4 linked regions of the Homo sapiens genome follow. The gene in region 3 interacts genetically with the main gene of each other region. Each region holds a gene or a part of one and is shown on either strand. Other genes may lie near its edges.

The links. A genetic interaction does not mean that the proteins touch.
Region 1: changes in CHEK1 (region 3) and DAAM1 are lethal when combined (synthetic lethality), as found in Homo sapiens cells (one large-scale study listed by BioGRID).
Region 2: changes in CHEK1 (region 3) and LLGL1 are lethal when combined (synthetic lethality), as found in Homo sapiens cells (one large-scale study listed by BioGRID).
Region 4: changes in CHEK1 (region 3) and CDC6 are lethal when combined (synthetic lethality), as found in Homo sapiens cells (one large-scale study listed by BioGRID).

Annotation. Positions count from the first base shown.
Region 1 is NC_000014.9:59,195,167-59,199,498, forward strand, and holds part of DAAM1 (disheveled-associated activator of morphogenesis 1), read left to right. Parts: intron 1-4,332. UniProt on the Homo sapiens protein: Binds to disheveled (Dvl) and Rho, and mediates Wnt-induced Dvl-Rho complex formation. May play a role as a scaffolding protein to recruit Rho-GDP and Rho-GEF, thereby enhancing Rho-GTP formation. Can direct nucleation and elongation of new actin filaments.
Region 2 is NC_000017.11:18,224,349-18,229,266, reverse strand, and holds the start of LLGL1 (lethal(2) giant larvae protein homolog 1), read right to left. Parts: upstream 3,633-4,918; 5' UTR 3,585-3,632; coding exon 3,504-3,584; intron 1-3,503. UniProt on the Homo sapiens protein: Cortical cytoskeleton protein found in a complex involved in maintaining cell polarity and epithelial integrity. Involved in the regulation of mitotic spindle orientation, proliferation, differentiation and tissue organization of neuroepithelial cells.
Region 3 is NC_000011.10:125,628,069-125,633,242, forward strand, and holds part of CHEK1 (serine/threonine-protein kinase Chk1), read left to right. Parts: intron 1-1,163; coding exon 1,164-1,228; intron 1,229-1,322; coding exon 1,323-1,392; intron 1,393-5,094; coding exon 5,095-5,174. UniProt on the Homo sapiens protein: Serine/threonine-protein kinase which is required for checkpoint-mediated cell cycle arrest and activation of DNA repair in response to the presence of DNA damage or unreplicated DNA.
Region 4 is NC_000017.11:40,294,379-40,298,710, forward strand, and holds part of CDC6 (cell division control protein 6 homolog), read left to right. Parts: coding exon 1-125; intron 126-977; coding exon 978-1,078; intron 1,079-1,202; coding exon of another isoform or gene 1,203-1,322; intron 1,323-2,324; coding exon 2,325-2,389; intron 2,390-4,332. UniProt on the Homo sapiens protein: Involved in the initiation of DNA replication. Also participates in checkpoint controls that ensure DNA replication is completed before mitosis is initiated.

The DNA of each region.
Region 1 (4,332 bases), on a different chromosome or scaffold from region 3:
ACAATCTTGCTCTGTCGCCCAGGCTGGAGTGCAGTGGTGCGATCTCAGCTCACTGCAAGCTCCGCCTCCCAGGTTCACGCCATTCTCCTGCCTCAGCCTCCTGAGTAGCTGGGACTACAGGTGTCCACCACCACGCCCAGCTAATTTTTTGTATTTTTAGTAGAGATGGGGTTTCACCGTGTTAGCCAGGATGGTCTCAATCTCCTGATCTCGTGATCCGCCTGCCTCGGCCTCCCAAAGAGCTGGGATTACAGGCGTGAGCCACCGCGCCTGGCCTCATCTTGTTATACTTTTTAAGTATGTCATTCACCTTTAGTAATAACCTGGGTTTATTCTGTTCTATAAATTACACCAGGATTGGGGTTTTAAGGCTACCTGTATTTCTGCTGGCACACAATTAAGGTCACCTATTAAACTGGTCTTTGTCATTTTTATGTCTAAAAAAAATACCTGCAGTGTGATTGGAAAATGTTGCCTATCTGATAGACTTCCTGAATTTAGGCTTACAAGAGTAGATAGCCCAGATCCTAGCTTTGGGCATTGTTGGGGTAATACAGATGCCCATCTTTTATTTTCTGAGATAGGTTCTTATATTCTGGCTTGTTGGCTAGCTCAGTTTGTTAGTGACATACAAACCAGGTCAAGGGCATGGGTTAGCTTTGCCTTGTTTTGGAGCCACAAACTGTACCTGTAATTCTAGTCAGATTTTTTCTGTATCTTTTTTTTTTTTAAATTAATCATGCTTTTGGGGACTAGACTGTACATTGTGGACATATCAGTGCACAGCTATCACTACTAAGGGCAAAAAAAGGTGCCATATTTTAAAGCGAACTGGTAGGAAAACCCTGTAAGTGAGAGGCAAGACTGCCAGCAGCTTGCTAAGGAACCGTATGCTTCTGACAGTTGTCCTCCTGTGAAGATTAGGTCAGGACTAGGGGCAGCTTCTTGAAAGTTTGCCAAAGCCAATAGCCTTGATCTTTTTCCTTTCTTGGCAGAATGACAGATGCCATCAATGTGTGTTTGGGTGCTACTTCTGGACTTACTCTTAGATAAAGTTCTGGATATTTGTGCCCAAGAAGAAGAGTAAAGGATGGTGGTCAACATTATTCACCAGATGAGATAGATTGTTCATATGTGCCTAAGCTTAAATTTGTATTAGTTTCATAGAGATTTGGTAAAACCAAGCAGGGAAATGTTTAGACACAAGTTAGAACCCGCAGTTCTGTAACAAGAGGTTTAGACCAGGGACCCTTCTAAATCCCCAGAATGTACTACAAAATTAATTGTAAGAAATGGGCCGGGTGCGGTGGCTCACGCCTGTAATCCCAGCACTTTGGGAGGACGAGGCGGGCATATCACAAGGTCAGGAAGTCGAGACCATTCTGGCTAACACGGTGAAACCCCATCTCTACTAAAATTACAAAAAATTAGCCGGGCGTGGTGGCGGGCGCCTGTAGTCCCAGCTACTCCGGAGGCTGAGGCAGGAGAATGGCGTGAACCCGGGAGGCGGAGCTTGCAGTGAGCTGAGATCCTGCCACTGCACTCCAGCCTGGGTGACAGAGCGAGATTCTGTCTCAAAAAACAAAACAAAACAAAACAAAAAAACAAAACCCACAAAAAAACTAATTGTAAGAAATTAAAGGAAATGAAACAGCTTAAACTGAAGAAACTTGCTGCATTCTCTATTCTTGAAAGTTGGTGAAATTGTGAATATGGAAAATGTCATACATTTCTGTTCAAGGCAACCCATTTGGAATTCTTTTTTCTTTTTTGAGACGGAGTCTCGCTCTGTCGCCCAGGCTGGAGTGCAGTGGCGCGATCTCGGCTCACTGCAAGCTCCGCCTTCCAGGTTCCCGCCATTCTCCTGCCTCGGCCTCCCGGGTAGCTGGGACTACAGGCGCCTGCCACCACGCCTGGCTAGTTTTTTGTATTTTTAGTAGAGACGGGGTTTCACCGTGTTAGCCTGGATGGTCTCGATCTCCTGACCTCGTGATCCGCCCGACTCAGCCTCCCAAAGTGCTGGGATTACAGGCGTGAGCCACCGCGGGAATTATTTTTTCAAATGCAACTACAGTTAACTCATTATTAGTGGCTGCTATTTGATTTAGGCTGATGGTGGAAAAGAAACAACAATACCATTTCTGTTTGGTTTCCCCATCCTGTTTGTGTGGCAGTCATTTCTGCGTTAGAGGTACTTTGTTCAGCACTGTTGGTAATGTGAACTAAAAGTTGGAGGACATGCAATAAATAAATGCTGGAATTGAAGCCAATGGCTGAGACTGACCGCACCATGTTCTCAGAAGGTTAAATGAACAGGCCTGCTATTATATTTTCGTCTTTTAAAAATCAAGAATAGAGATTAAACTGGAAATACTCTGACCCATTTAGGGCTTGAGATTCTGTGAGTAGGTAACACTTCCAACTATGGAAGTTCTAGGAACTGTGGCAGGAAACTGCCTTGCCTATGATATTTTCTGCTAAGGGCTGGTTAAAATGTTTTTAAAAATGTATATAGTTTTATATTTAACCCAATTTCTTTTCAGGCTGTGTCTGAAGTTACGTTTCTTCCATACCTTACCTTTTCTTTCTATACTCCCTGCATTGCAGTTTGACAGTTCTGCTCCTTTGGCTTCTCTGTGGGCAGGGTGAGATGGCTGTCTCCAGTCTGCCAAGTTCCATATCTTGGGAGCCCCATCACTGACCTTACAGAAAAGCATGTCTTCCCCCCTTAACCCTCTAGCTTAGAATGAGAGCTGTGAGGCAGCTGGGAGAGGAAGGCTTACATTGTAATTCTGTCAAGCTCAGATTGTTTTTCTGACGAACAAGTTGAGGGAAGTAGGTAGAGGGGAGGACAGAGAGAGTTGCTGGGTTTCACTTATCTTATCATTTGTTTCCCTCTGGATGGCCTTTGTTTATGCTGTCTCTTCAGGCCAGGAATTCCTCCAACAGAAATCATGCGTACACTCGGGGACATTCACATTGGGGCTTCCTTCTTGTGTTTCCATTTGCTGATTTGCCTTTCTTTTCTTTTCTTTTCTTTCTTTTTTTTTTTTTTTTGAGACGTAGTCTTGCACTGTTGCCCAGGCTGGAGTACAGTGGTGCAATCTTGGCTCACTGCAACCTCCGCCTCCTGTGTTCAAACAATTCTCCTGCCTCAGCCTCCCAAGTAGCTGGGATTACAGGTACCCGCCACCATGCCCAGCTAATTTTTCTATTTTTAGTAGAGACAGGGTTTCAACATATTGGTCAGGCTGGTCTCAAACTCCTGACCTTGTGATCCGCCTGAACTCCTGACCTCATGATCCGCCTGCCTCGGCTTCCCAAAGTGCTAGGATTACAGGCATGAGCCACCGTGCCTGGCCCCATTTGCTGATTTGCCTTTCTTCTCTACAGCCTGATCCGGAAGGAGGGGTGGAAATACTTAACCTGCTTTTAATGCTTCTGTTAGGGGATAAAGAGATTTTACAACAGTGATGTGGGGCAAACATGTGGGTGACTTTTCTAATGAGGAAGGAGGATAATGCTGAGTAAATGTAGATTCAATTTACATGTAACTTCTGTTTGGTAGAGTGTTTAATCACACATGTTTGACACCTTGAATGAAATCTCTTCACCTGTCTTTTGGTGCTTTGCAATTGCACAGAGAAAAAGACACACTCTTTGATTTTAGGTTCAGTTTGGGTAATCGTGGCAATTCCTTTAAACTTTCCGGACCTCTCTTTCCTCATTCACAGTGTATTCACATAGAATAAGCTATCTTCTGGATAAAAATTCTAAATTTTTGGGAAGACAGTATCCTCTTAAAATAATGACCTCACTTATGTGGCACTGTGTACTCATCAAAGTAATATCCATTGAGTTTCCCTAAAATGGAGATCGGTGAGGGAGAACTCCGATTTTTCGCCCCCAGTTTTCAGCCTTGGCTGCCCCTGCCTTGGCATGGTGTCCTGAGATCCTGTTCTTGGCTGGAGCTAAGCCCCATGATCTGATCCCCAGTCTCTTCTCAACTGCACAACTCAGGAGTTTTGTAGGATATAAGGGATGAAACTCGACAGAGTCTTTTGGTGATCATACAGTTCTGTTTAAATTGATCATCACTTTTTAGTTTCTACTTAATTGTTTTTCTTTTTTTAAATTTGACATGAGGTCTTGAACTCCTGGCCTCAAGCAATCCTCCCGCCTCAGCCTCCGGAGTTGCTGGGATTACAGGCGCATGCAACCGTGCAGGGCTGATCACCACTTTAAACTGGAGTCTGACCACCAGGGGGTCCACAGAGTGAATGTAGCCAGCTGTCCATGTTTTGCTTGGCCAGCACAGTATTATTTTTAAAA
Region 2 (4,918 bases), on a different chromosome or scaffold from region 3:
GGGGTCTGTGTGCCCAGAGTGTCGATGAAACAGCTCCCCACCCGCTCCCCTGCCCCTTTCACAGCACACCCTTTCTGCACCAGTCTCCTGTCTTTGGCCTGGCTGTGCCCTCCCTGGGAAGCCTGCACAGCTGAGCTCCAGCCCCATCCTGAACACCAGTGCAGGACACCCACGTGGGCCACTGGTAACTCCTTTTATCTTGTTGTTGTTATTTATTTTTCACTTTTACCACTGGTAATTCCTGACCCACTGCCTCAGGAAGATGCACATTTGTAAGAAACCCCAGTTCCCAGCCTGTAACGCGAACCTCCCTCCCTGCCTGCCTCTGCCCATCCAGGTGGGGACTGAGCCCTCTGGGCAGCTGGTTTGGTCACGGCCTAGCTGTCTGGCCTTGGGCAAGTCACAGTACTCTCCAAGACTCAGTACTCTCCAAGCTTCAGTCTCTCATCTGGGCCCTTGGGACAGTAAGCCCACCTAAGGACAGAGTTGGCGATTTGGCTGGGGCTTCTCTCTCCCACCAATAATACCACGCCCTTGCTGCACCTGACCTTGTCTAGCCAGTCCCTCGCTACAACCAGGGTCCAGAGACGGGACACTGCATCGCAAATCCCCACAGCCTTCCCATTTTACAAACGAGGAAAGGAGGTTACATGCACTGTCCAGCATCTGCTTCCCTCATACCCCACGTCCAGTCCATTTCTGAGCCCCATCAACTCAGTTTCAAAACACACAGAAGTCACCTCCCTCCCTGCTCCAGGCCCCACCGTCACGTGCCTGGATTGGTACTCACTACAGTCTGTTCCCACAGAGGCCAGAGGGATCCTATGAAAGCCACAGCCAGATCCTTGTCCCTCCCCTGCTCAGGATCCTCCTGGGGCTCCCAGCTAAGGGAGGCTTGTGCCTCAGGGCCTTTGCACCTACTGCCCCTCTGCCTGGAACGCACTTCCTCCAGCACTTCCTGTCGCTCAGGAGTAATCTCCTCAGAGAAGCCTCCCAAGGCCACCCTGGCTGCAGCAGCCGCCCTGGCCACACCTCTCACCCCCTCGCCCTACTTTATTTGATCCACAGCACTGGCTACCATCCCAACTACAGTCTATTTTACTTTTTTGTTTTGGCTTTTCACTGTCTCCTGCACAACTATATCAGCCACCTGAGTTAACAGGTATTTGTCCTTTTTGGTAACTACTGTTGTCCCCAGCACCTTGGAGACCTCACACACAGTGGGGCTCAGTATTAACAGAGAAGGCACATTCCACAGGCGATGTGTGGGCTGGACTGGGATTTGAACCCAAGACTCAGAGTCCAAAGTCCCTGCTCACTCCTGACCTGTCTCCCACCCCCTAAGCTCAGGAATCAGGGGCCTATTCCCTAGCGATCACCTATTACCCACTTAGGTGACTAAGTCCCTTCCCCAAGACCACCCCACTTTCCACCACTGCTGCCCACGCTTCATCCTCAGCGGAGGGCCCTTACTTTCCGCCACCCCAAGGCTAGCCAGAGTGGGCTGAGCTTCACCCCCATCTGTCTCCAGCCCCCACTGCACACCCCAATTCACTGGCTGAAGAAATGACATTTAGGCCAGGCATGGCAGCTCATGTCTGTAATCCTAGCACTTTGGGAAGCCAACATGGATGGATAGATAGCTTGAACCCAGGAGTTCGAGACCAGCCTGGGCAACATGGTGAAACCCCATCTCTACAAAAAATACAAAAACTAGCCGGGCATGGTGACACGAGCCTGTAGTCCCAGCTTCAGGAGGCTGAGATGGGAGGATCACCTGAGCCAGGGAGTTGTGAGGCTGCAGTGGACTGTGATTGTGCCACTGCACTCCAGCCTGGGTGAGAGTGAGACCCCATTTCAAAAAAAAAAAAGTGACATTTAGCCCTGTGCCTGTTGCTGCCTTTCCCTGAAGGGCCATTCTCCTCTCACCTCACCCTCACAGCCTCCCCGGCACAGAAAATAGGTGCCATCTGGGGACCACGGAGCACCAGCTTCCCTTCTGGGCCCCTCTCAGGTTCCTAGCAGGTTCTCAGCCACCGTGTGAGGGTCCTGGCAGCTCTCATCGGCAATCACTGCAGACCTAGGCAGGGAAACCCTGAGACATCCCAGTGCCTCCACTACTCCAGGTCCAGCCGTCCCAGAGCCTCCTCCAAGACAAGTGTCTCCTCAAGGCAGCCCAGGGCGCCTGGCACAACACTGGCCCAGGACCACAGCAGCCCCTTGGAAAAATCCCTGCCCCTCAAGGCTAAAATCCAACCCCACTGACACAAGAACTCAAGAAAGATATTGGTGCAGCTCACTCTGACTCCGGGCAAGCCGTCACCCCTCTCAGAACCTCAATTTTCTCACCTGTATTTTGAAGATAACTCTAATTTCGAAGAGCACTGAGAGGCTCTGCCATCAGTGGGCTCTGGGGTAAGAATGAGGACAAAACCAACGTCCCCAGAGCAGTGAGCCAGGAGTGGGCTGAGGCCCTGCTCTAACATCAGTGCAGAGGGAGGCGGGGGCTGAGGCGGCCCCTTTCCCTGGCCCCTAGTGTCCCACTCCGGGAAAGGAAGGAAAAGCCTCCACCTCACTCCACCTTGGTGCAGAAAGGCAGGACAGCTGGCCCATGTGGCAGAGGGAGCCAGGGCCCACAGTATGGAGAAAAGTAGCCTCATTTCACAGCTAGGGAAACTGAGGCCCCACGATGCGAAGTGCAGTGTAGTACACAGCCAGGCATGTCCCCTGGACTCGGAGCCCCGGGCAGGGCAGAGCAGGGCAAGGCAGAGCCTGGAGCAGTGGGGGAAGGAAGGAGAGGCTCCTTGAAGGGATTTCCCAGCCGCACCCCCCACAGCTGCCTCGCCCCCACTAACTCTCTCACCCTCCTGGGTGCCAAAGCACAAAACAAACCGGGCCCCAGGGCTGTCCCAAGGGCCGAGCAGGGACGCAATGGAGCCCCTAAGAAAAAGGATAAAGAGACAGAAGTGAGCGACAGAGGTCGAGAGACTCCACAGAGACAGAGAGAGAGACACGCAGGGAGAGACAGGCAAAGAAGACTCAGAGACGCACAGGCAGCAAGAGAAATGAGAGGCAGAGAGATAAAGGGAGACAGGCAGAGATAGGAAGGGGCAGAGGCAGAGACACCCCCACCACACACACAGGCACAACTGGGGCGAGACAGCCGGTCAGCGGCGGAGAAAGAGGGACAGAGACCCAGAGACAGGCAAAGAGTCTCAGAGACAGACCCCCACACACACAGACTGGCAGAGCCAGGGCCAGAGCGGCCCGCAGAGACTCGGGGAGCAGACACGGAAAGTCGGCCGGAGACCCAGACCCACCCAGAGTCCGAGCCAGAGCGGGGCCCGCCGAGGGGGTGCGCGGCCCGGCCCGGCCCCGCCCCGCGCCGCGCTGCATGCCAGCCCCCGCCCCCCGGGCCCGACGTGGCTCCGACCCCGGGCCCCCAGCCCAGGCCCCCGTCCCGCCCCCTCCCGCCCGAGCCCGGGCCCGGGCCGCCGCCGCACCTTGTTGAAGGCGAAAAGCTCCTGCTTGAGCTTCTCGCGCTGCGGGTCGGCGCCCTGCCGCCGGAACCGAAACTTCATCATCTTGCGCCCGGCTGCAGGCGCCTCGCCCGCCGCCGCCGCCCGCAGGATGCGCCGCGCGGCCCCGCGGGTCCTAAGGCGCGGGCGGGGCGCCAGGCGGCCCGGGCGCGGGCGCGCGGGGCCGGGCCTGCACGGGGGTGGGCGCCGGGCGCGACGGACGCGCCGCCCGACCAGTGAGCGAGCCCGCCGTGCCGCCCGCCCCGCCCCTGTTGGCCAGACAATGGTGAACTGGGCCCCCGGGCTCGGCCGGGCTCGCGAAGGGACGCCCGCCTAGCATGCGCCGCGGCGCGGGGCCTGCCGGGACTTGTAGTCCATGAGCCGGGGCTCCAGCGCGGGCGGCTGGGGAAGCGCTTTGGAGGGGGATTGGCGCACGTTCCCGGGCTTGGAGGAGACTTTTTCCTCCTCCCAGAGAGCGAGCGACGTGCCCACTCATGTAATGGGGCAGCCCTGTTCCGAAAGCCAAGACAGCTCTGACTGGAACAACTCCCTGGCCCCTCTGCGCCTCAGTTTCCCCATCTACACCATTGGTCAAGTGATTGCCAAGTTTATATTTTACCAATTTCACAGAACTCCATTTCGTCTGTTCCCCGCTCTGTCAGAGCACCTCCCACCGCCGTGCTTTTGCCTTGGCTTTGTAGTCAGGAATTCTTTCCTCACCCCCAGCCCCTGGGGAACTCCTACACATCTTTCAGGACCCAACGCAAAAGGCTCTGTGTCACAGCACAGGGGATTCTTTCTTAGCCAAAGAAAGAGACGGGATCCCCAGGAGGTGGCATTTGGGACTGTTCTGGGGTTGGATTGGAGCTTTACGGAGATGGGGGAAGGACCTCCCCCCGCAGAGAACAGCGTCTGAACAAAGCTTAGCCCTGCCCCTACTCTCAGGGGCCGTCTGCCTGTCCCCACCCACCTCCCAGGCCTTTTCTCATCTGGACAATGGCCTCGAGGCTGAACCTTTCCTTCCAGGCTGAGGATAGGCCGCCTGGCTCAGGGCTGGGGCTGCGGGAGGTCCTAGAAGCTTAGGTGGGGCAGGTAGGACAGGCCCCAACCCCACCAGCTGTGTCCAGGGAGCAGGAGCTGACCTCTGAGCCCGAGGCGGCTGCCAAGCCTTGGGGCCTGGCTGTCCCCCTCCACCCACGCCAGGCCGGCGGTGTTCAGCCCTTCCCCGTATTTGGGGCTGGATCCGGAAGAGGGCCCAGGAGTGAGTGAGGAGGTGAGAGGAGGGAGAATGACGACAGTAAAGCCCCTAAGTGTCTACTGCGGGGCAGGCGCTGTTCAAAGCCCTTTCCTGGTTTCAGCTGACTTAGTGCTGTCAGTAGCTCTACGAGGGAGCCAACAAT
Region 3 (5,174 bases):
TTACAGAATTTAAGAGTGACAAACAAGTTTTATGGTACATCATAAATGCAGTGTATCCTAAATGCAATGTATTGCCTACACAATTTTTTCTTTGTAGACATTCTAGTTACATGAAATCATTGTATACATTTTATACATTTACAGATCTAAAATAGCATGCTGTTTCCTCTTGGTTTACATGAAATAATTGAGAATTTTCTAGGATTGCTTTTTGTATATTAAGTAAATTCTATGTTTGCTATTAATACTTAAATATTCGATGTAGAATCAAAGGATTGATATTTCAGAACACTGAGAAGTACATAAAATCTGGATCTAAATTTATAATTTAAATTTATAATTTAAAGCTATTGTATTAAATAAGTTTATCAGTTAAAAACTGATAAAGAGGTATTAGGATCTCCAGTGTGACTCAGGAGAGAGTTGAGGGTAAAAGAAATGGAGTTAATGAGAGAGATCAAAATATAAAAAGATAACTGATAAAAGAACTTTCATAATAAAACTGTTTCACGAAGGACCTCACAGGCATTTGTGGTTTTGTACTGTGAGACTATATGAAGTTTAAATCTGAGCCAGGTGTGGTGGTACATGCCTGCAATCCTAGCTACTTAGGAGGCAGGAGGATTGCTTGAGCTCAAGAGTTCCAGGTTACAGTAAGTTATGATCTCACGCCAGGGCACTCCAGCCTGGGTGAAAGAACAAGACCGTATCTCTAAAAAAAGTTAAATTATAAAAGAAGTATAATCTGTAAAATATTTAGTGAAATTGGCTTAGATTTGCCCAGACTTCCCCTTTGGCATTATATTTCAGGAATGAGAAAAATAATTAGCATAGCATTTAGAAGAAATGGGGGGAATTTCAAGGTTACTAAATAAATCAGGGTTAGTATAAGAGGAAGCAGAGGCTTTGAAGTCATGGCTTGCATTCTTGATTTGGATATTGGTTTTCTCTTTATAATTTTTCTGTGATGACGCCTTTTGCCACCTAACACAGGTAAATGTGAGTTAAGCCCCATATGTGTTAGTGGACTCCTGAATCTTTTGTTGGCATTTGCTTCTGTTTGCCTAAGCACATTTGTAAATGTCTAAGCTTCAAATTAAGAAGCTATGTGGTTGCTACCTGATTATATTTAGTCAATAAACTTACTTTCATATTTGTTTTAGAGCCAGACATAGGCATGCCTGAACCAGATGCTCAGAGATTCTTCCATCAACTCATGGCAGGGGTGGTAGGTATAGTTGTCTATTTCCCTTTTACTTAAAATTAGAGTGAATACATTACATTACCAAATTCTAGTGTGTTTCTCTCTGCATCCCTCTTAGGTTTATCTGCATGGTATTGGAATAACTCACAGGGATATTAAACCAGAAAATCTTCTGTTGGATGAAAGGGGTAAGTTTAGCATTTTATCACTACCTAAAATAAAATAAAATAATTACCTAAATTATTTTAATTACCTAATTATTTTAATATAGCCATACAAGGCAAAATCAAGTCTTTTTGCATTACTGGAATTTCAAGACAAGATCTGAAAAATCAAGGAAATTTTGGAGACTTCGTATATTTGGAAATCACAAGTCTCATTTTGCAATACAAGTGCGGATCAGGTAGAGAAATCTGACCTAGGTGCAAGCCTAGCTCACTATATGTATAAGAATAATTTTTTTTTTTTTGATACAGGCTCACTGTGTTGTCCAGTCTGGGGTGCACTGTATTATCACAGTTCACTGCAGCCTTGACCTCCTAGGCTCAAGCAATCCTACCATCTCAGCTTCCCGAGTAGCTAGGACCAACCACAGGCAGGTGCCACCATGCCTGGCTAATTTTTGATTTTTTGAAGAGGTGGAGTCTTCCTGTGTTGCTCAGGCTAGTCTTGAACTCCTGGACTCAAGCAGTTTACCAGCCTTAGCCTCCCAGAGTGTTGGGATTATAGACGTGAGCCACCATGCCTGGCCAAGAATAGTTTAAAATAATCCTTTAATGGATTAATAAAGGGAAGTTCCTGTGGAATACCCTGGACCTTAGTCTTGTCCTGTTCACTCTTTTTTTATGTATGACGTGGATAAAAATGTAAGAAATTTAGTTATATTTTCTGAATGTCATCAAATTGAGAAGGATGGATAGCGAAAGCTTTAAGCTTACAGGGTCAGAATCAAAAAAGAAATGTCAGCTGTATGAGGCAGTAGTTTTTGTCTGGTTTAATGCTTTATTCTTAGTATTAGAATAGTGCTTAACAAATGGTCAGCTTTTTTTTTTTTTTGAAACAGAGTCTTGCTGTGTTGCCCAGGCTGGAGTGTAGTGACATGATCTCGGCTCACTGTAACCTCTACCTCTCTGGTTCAGGTGATTCTTGTGCCTTAGGCCCCTGAGTAGCTGGGATTACAAGCCTGAGTCACCACACCTGGCTCATTTTTATATTTTTAGTAGAGATGGGGTTTTGTCATATTGGCCAGGCTGGTCTCGAGCTCCTGGCCTCAAGTGATCTGCCTCCCTTGGCCTCCCAGAGTGCTGGGATTATAGGTGTGAGCCGCTGTACCCAGCCTATACATGCTTTTTTCTTATGTGCATATGGATTTTACTTTTTACCCCTTTAAACTGAGTTTATATGACATAAAAATCTTTATTTTTATTTAAAACTTTAAAAATTCAGGTACACAAAAATTCTTATGTATTATAATGAAATGTAAATATATGTATATCAACCCACCTGGTTTAAAAATACAACATTATTCGTATATAAGAATGCTCACAGTGGTGATGTTTTTAATATAGCAGGAAACTAACCCAAATGTCTGTCAACAATAAATTATGAAATGCATGGCTTTTCAAGCCATGTCACAAGCAGTGACACAAGCATGTCACAAGCAGTGACATGGATGAATTTCAGGTATATAATGATGTAGAGCAAAAAGAGACAGTTGCAAAAGAATTCATATGGTCTGATTCTGTTTATACAAAGTTCAAAAATATGTAAAACCTAGTATATTGTTCAAGTATGTAAACATGGAGAAAAAAACATGCAGAAAAGCAAGGGTATAATAAAACCAAATTCAGAATGGTCTAAGAAAGTAGGGGAGGGAATGTATTTAAGGAAGTATTTAAAGATTTCAAAGGAAATAGAGCATTGTTTTTCTAAAGTGAGTGGGTGTTTATTACATTGTTATTCTTTATATCTTGTATTAATATACAAGATATAATTCTTTGTTTCTATTTAATATTTAGGAGTCTTTTAAAAAAAGAAATAAAATGTTACCAGTATTTAATGTCCTCCTGTTTATTTCATCACAAATATATTCTTCCTTTGTTTTTCTAAGAGCTAAACACATTCCTACATTTAAATTTTATTATGTGCAGTTCTCTAACATAGCTGAGTATTATGTTGCAGACATAACAAAGTCCAAGGAATACTATAGTTATCCATTAGTATTTTAAGTGATTACTACTCATAAGTAATTTGAAACTCAATCTCAGTGGTTTGTCCAATAGTGTCATATTTAACTACTGAAAAGATAATCAACTGGGTGCAGTAGCTCATGCCTGTAATCCCAGAGGCTGAGGTGGGACGATTGAGTGATTCTAGGAGTTTGAGACCAGCCTAGACAACATAGACCCTGTCTTTATGAAAAATTAAAAAAAAAAATTAGCTAGACATGGTGGTGCACACCTGGAGTCCCAGCTACTTGGAAGGCTGAAGCAGGAGGATTGATCACTTCAGCCTAGGAGGTCAAGGCTGCAGTAAGCTGTGATCACATCACTACACTCTAGTCTGGGCAGCAGAGTGAGACACTTTCTCAAAAAAAAAAAAAAAAAAAAAAAAAAAGGGTAATCACAGTAGCTACCTCCTAAGTCAGATAGAGGTAAACATTTCATTGGTTTACATATTGTGTGAATGTACTTGATTTTTAAAGAAATCAGTCCCCTATTTTGAGACATTTAAGTTGTTTCTAACTTATAAAATAGGACAGTGATGGCTTCTATCAATTTGTGTAAAAGGCCAATATAAAAATTGCGTCATGCTATAATATTTTTTATGCTATAATATTTTTTATGCCATTAGCCTTTTTGTCCCACTTACACACTATTTCATGTTAGTATGTATAGATATACCTTGTTGATTGTTTTCAAAACCTACCTCCACATTTTCCATTGTACAAATTTGGACATTTATTTACAAATAATATTGCTATGAATATTCTTATGTTTATGAATTTGTGGGATTATTTCTATGGATATAGAAGTGGGAATTGCTAGTTCAAAGAGTGAATGTTTCACAGTTTAGTATGTTTTGCCAAATTGCCCTCTGATAATAGAGGGCCTTTTCTAACTCTTAAGACTGGGTTACATTCCTTTGCTCTAAGATCCTATAGTGCTCTATATTTTTATAACCTTCATAACAGTTTTCTATTGTCAGTCTTCACTAATTTATCTATTACCTGCATTGGCTGGCATAGTGTCTGTCACTAAGTTACAGTAGATATTCACTAAACATAAGTTAAGTCCTGCCTGCAGTTTTTGTGTGTTGAAGATGGGAAGTTAGGGTGGAAGTTGGGTCTTCTGATATTTTTTTTTTGTACAGAGTTTGTCCTCTTTTTCTCAGACTCTCTACTTTGAAGAAAAAAATTACTGTGGTTTGTTGAATTTTGGTGTGTCTTCACATATTTTCTTCTGCCAACTGGGTTTGTTTGCTGCTGAGAAAGTTGTGCCTAACATACTACTGATGTTTCCTTCCTGCCCTCCACCCTACCTGATGAGGGGCCTTGCTTTACTTTCATCTCAGGTTTAGAGTGCTCTTTTCCAGAAGGGCAGCCCCTTCTGACTCCAGCCTCTTTCTTTAATCTGGTCCAGACTGTTCTGTGTGTTGATAATACTTCTTTTAAGTTAATAGAAGAGGTGAGGCCTTTTTCTACTTTTAGCATAGATGATGATTTATTTTATTTTTTTAAATTTCTTTTTGTCTATTTTGCTTATTTTAAGAGAAGTTCTACAAACCTTAAGTAACACCAGTGATTTTTTTTCAGTAAAACTTAATTCCTGTAAGTATATCTATTTGCAAAACATTTTTATTCAGTGTCATCTTTTTTTCTTTTGGTTTAGATAACCTCAAAATCTCAGACTTTGGCTTGGCAACAGTATTTCGGTATAATAATCGTGAGCGTTTGTTGAACAAGATGTGT
Region 4 (4,332 bases), on a different chromosome or scaffold from region 3:
TGGATCTCACAGATAGAATTCTACCTAGGCTTCAAGCTAGAGAAAAATGTAAGCCACAGCTGTTGAACTTCCCACCTTATACCAGAAATCAGATAGTCACTATTTTGCAAGATCGACTTAATCAGGTCAGTGCCAACTATTTTGCCAAATTATGTGTTCCTTGGATCACCTGTGCTAGGAAAATTTAACAATAGTTCTAAAATATTTTTGCCTTGATTGCTTTATTAATGGAGCAAGGAGTTCCTATGGACCATAGTGAGAACATTTTTATGTGAATTTCAGCTTCATTCATTTACTGGGTGTCTCAGTGTTGAAATAAAAGCAGGAGTTAGAGGAATCACCCAAGCGCTTTTTTTTTTTTTTTTAGATGAGTTTTGCTCTTATCGCCCAGGCTGGAGTGCAATGGCGTGATCTCGGCTCTCTACAGCCTCTGCCTCACGGGTTCAAGCGATTCTCCTGCCTCAGCCTCCCCAGTAGCTAGGACTACAGGCACCTGCCACCACGCCCAGCTAATTGTTGTATTTTTAGTAGAGCTGGGGTTTCACCGTCTTGGCCAGGCTGGTCTCGAACTCCTAACCTCAGGTGATATGCCTGTCTCGGCCTCTCAAAGTGCTGGGATTACAGGCATGAGCCATCGCACCCAGCCTCAAGTGCTTTCTTTAATGACCTTTAAAAAATAGGGCCTATGAAAAAACTTTTTCTGTTGAAAATGACTAAATAGATTTTTTATTTTTGCTAATTTCAGTTCTGATTGCTTTTTTCCATTTATGAACTTCTACTGCATCCGTACAAAAAGCTTAAATGTGTGAAAACTCTCAAACGTCTCCATTATTTATGAGAAGAAAAGGCATCTTTTTAACCCTAAAGAGTTGCCAATCAAGTTTAGGGTTAAATGTGAAAATATTTATGCTTGGGACCTAAATTACAGAGGGAGAATCTTATGGTTCAAACTGTCATCTTCTATGTCTTGTCTGAAGGTATCTAGAGATCAGGTTCTGGACAATGCTGCAGTTCAATTCTGTGCCCGCAAAGTCTCTGCTGTTTCAGGAGATGTTCGCAAAGCACTGGATGTTTGCAGGTGAGTTACGGCTCTGTTGCATTCTTTTATTAAAAAAAAAAAAAAAGAAATGCTGTTAATTGTCTCATGTAACTCAAGTGAATGTGGCTTAAGAGGCTCTGTTCTGCTACTTTTTTACGCTCAGAAAGGAGGACTTGTTTCTCAGTGGGGAGCTCTGGATTTCCACCGTGTTAATGTCTGAAACATTATCAGTCCATTACCTACAGAGGGAGAAACAAATGAGATGTTGCTGGCACTCCCTGTGGTGATTATAGATTGGTTAATTACATTTGTATTAAAAAAGACTCCAGTTTACTTTTCCATTAGCTGGTCTCAAGCAGGTTTATTTATGGACCTGAACCGTCTTTGCCTTTAGACTTGTTCCCCTTCCTTTCCTTTTGTGAGCACCCCTTCTTCCCTTCAGTTGGTGGTCCCCCACAGTTGTACTCCAGACCTCTTTCTCCCTTCCCATCCTCCTGCCCCTCCTGCTGGGGAAAGCCTCTGTGCCGACTGATGAAATTTCTTCCTTCCCAGTAGGGACACTGGGTCCATTAAAATGATACTTGCTGTGCTGGCCTGCTGGTCCAACCTCCCCCTATTGCTATGCAGAAGACCCAGGTCTGGCTTATGGCTTCCTGTGGGCAAGTACTTTGGAGAGAGCAGTGGGAGAGTAAGCTCTTCCTATTGCTAGATTGCATGATCCTGAATTTGAAAGTTTCCCCTAATCAGCAAACTACTTGGGTAAAGACTGCAACTATGAGCAATAGTCATGTAGGCTAGCGTGGTTTAGCCTACACATATCCTATGTATATATAACTGAAGATATCCCTTTTAGGTTTGGTGTGTATGGGTGATGCTGACTCCCTTTAGTCAGTCACCCACACTACATATCCTCTCTCCTACCCATGACATTTTCTCCTCATCCAAAATGTTATCATTGGCTTAATGTATGATGACCTACTTGGCATCCATTAGGAGGAAACCATTGAAGTTTCTCAAATCTGATGTCCATGAATTATTTCAAAGCAATTAAGTCCCCTTATCTGAGAAATAACCCAGTTTTGTTTGGGGGCTTTAAAATTATAAAACATCATAATTTTAAAGTTACACGTAGGATATGTGTAGGCTAAACCATGTTAGCCTACATGACCATTGTTCATAGTTGCAGTCTTTGAGCAATGGTCATTAATGTGCCGCTTTTGAGGCTGGTGGTTTGGTGTGTTTGGTTTGGCTCAGACTAAATTAATTTTAGAAATTTTTTTTATAGGAGAGCTATTGAAATTGTAGAGTCAGATGTCAAAAGCCAGACTATTCTCAAACCACTGTCTGAATGTAAGTAGTTTATCTCCTTCCTGTCTTCCTTTGTAACTAGAAGCTTAGCTTTTCTGAGGAAAGAGGTAGAAAGATGAAATGAACATAGTTAAATCCAAACTCACCCATTTTTATGTGTGTCTGTGTTTTTAGTCCGTTTCGTCTACTTTATTTCAATCTTGCCTGCCAGTACTATAGTTCGTGCATTACTGGAAATGAGTTCCCAGGGTATTGATTGCGTAAATGGCTGGGACAGAGTAAGTTTTTTTTCCAAGCTCTGGAAATGAAACTTGTAGACAATGAGGTTGGATCAGCTCTCTGGGTGCTTATGTTGCGTGCACTTTAGGTCTCAATATAGGTGAAAGCAAAGCCTGATAAATAAGGGAGAATTGGGTAAAAGAATTGTGAAGCCAGGTGCGGTGGTTCACACCTGTAATCCCAGCACTTTGGGAGGCCAAGGCGGGAGGATCGCTTGAGCCCAGGATTGTGAGACCAGCCTGGGCAATATAGTGAGACCTTGTTTCTACAAAAAATTTTAAAAATTTTGCAGCCATTAAAAATATGAGTTCATATCCTTTTTAGGGACATGGATTAAGCTGGAAACCATCATTCTCAGCAAAGTAACACAGGAACAGAAAACCAAACACCACATGTTCTCACTCATAAGTGGGAGTTGAACAATGAGAACACATGGACACAGGGAGGGGAACATCACACACCGGAGGCTGTTGGGGGTGGAGGCCAAAGGGAGGGAGAGCATGCAGGACTTAAAACCTAGATGACAGGTTGATGAGTGCAGCAAGCCACCATGGCACATGTATACCTATGTAACAAACCTGCATGTTCTGCACATGTATCCCAGAACTTAAAAAAAATTAGGCAAGCATGGTGTGTGCCTGTAGTCCTAGCTACTTGGCAGGCTGAGGCAGGAGAATCACTTGAGCTGGAGAGGCAGAAGTTGCAGTGAGCCGAGATGGTGCCACTGCACTGCCAGCCTGGGCAACAGAGCGAGACCCTGTCCCAAAAGAATAATAATAAGAAGAATTATAAGTTCAACTTGGGATATCTCAAGCTTTTAAACAAGTCTAGAGGGTAGAGGTAAAAAGATCATACTGCTACAGTAAGCTGCATGGTATCACAAATGACAAAATTAATATTCCATTCCCTCAGCCTTGTTTTGGTTGTGGCAAATGTAAAATGGCCATGAACTACGTATCTTACAGTATTTGATATCCAGTGTTAGTCTTTATAAACAGAATAGTAAGATTTGATTGTTTCTTTTTCACTCCTACACTGGCTGGGAGTTTAAGTAAAATTGTTTCTGGCATTATAGTTCTGCATGAAATTCTTTCTTTTTTTCATCAATTTGCTAAAATAAAATAATTAAAAATGTTTCAGAAGTAGCCAAAAATAGTGCTTAGGCTAATAGTAGGCAATATATACCAATGTATAGACTTAGATACTGGTTTCTTCCTCCTTTTCAACTTTTCAGATTATCCCCTTTTCCTCCTCCTTTTTCCCCATCAGTAACATTTAGGCTTGTCACTGGCCCCTGTGAGCACCACTAACACAAACATAATTCAAAAAGGTAAAGAGGTTGTAAGTTCTATCTTTTGACTTCTGGTTTGTGCGGGATTGGCTTTTTTCTTTCTTTTTTTTTTTTCTTTTTGTGTAAAACAAGGTCTTGCTTTGTCTCCCAGGCTGGAGTCCAGTGGTGCAATTATGGCTGGTGCGATCATGGCTCACTGCAGCTGCAACCTCCCAGGCCCAAGCAGTCCTCTCACCTCAGCCTCCCCAGCTCCAGCTACTGCTAATTTTAAAATTTTTGTAGAGTCAGTGGGTGGAGGAGTCTCCTTATGTTGCCCAGGCTGGTCTCAAACTCCTGGGATAAAGTGATTCTCCTGCCTCAGCCTCCCACAGCTTTGGAATTACAGGCATGAGCCACCATACCAGGTTGAGATTGG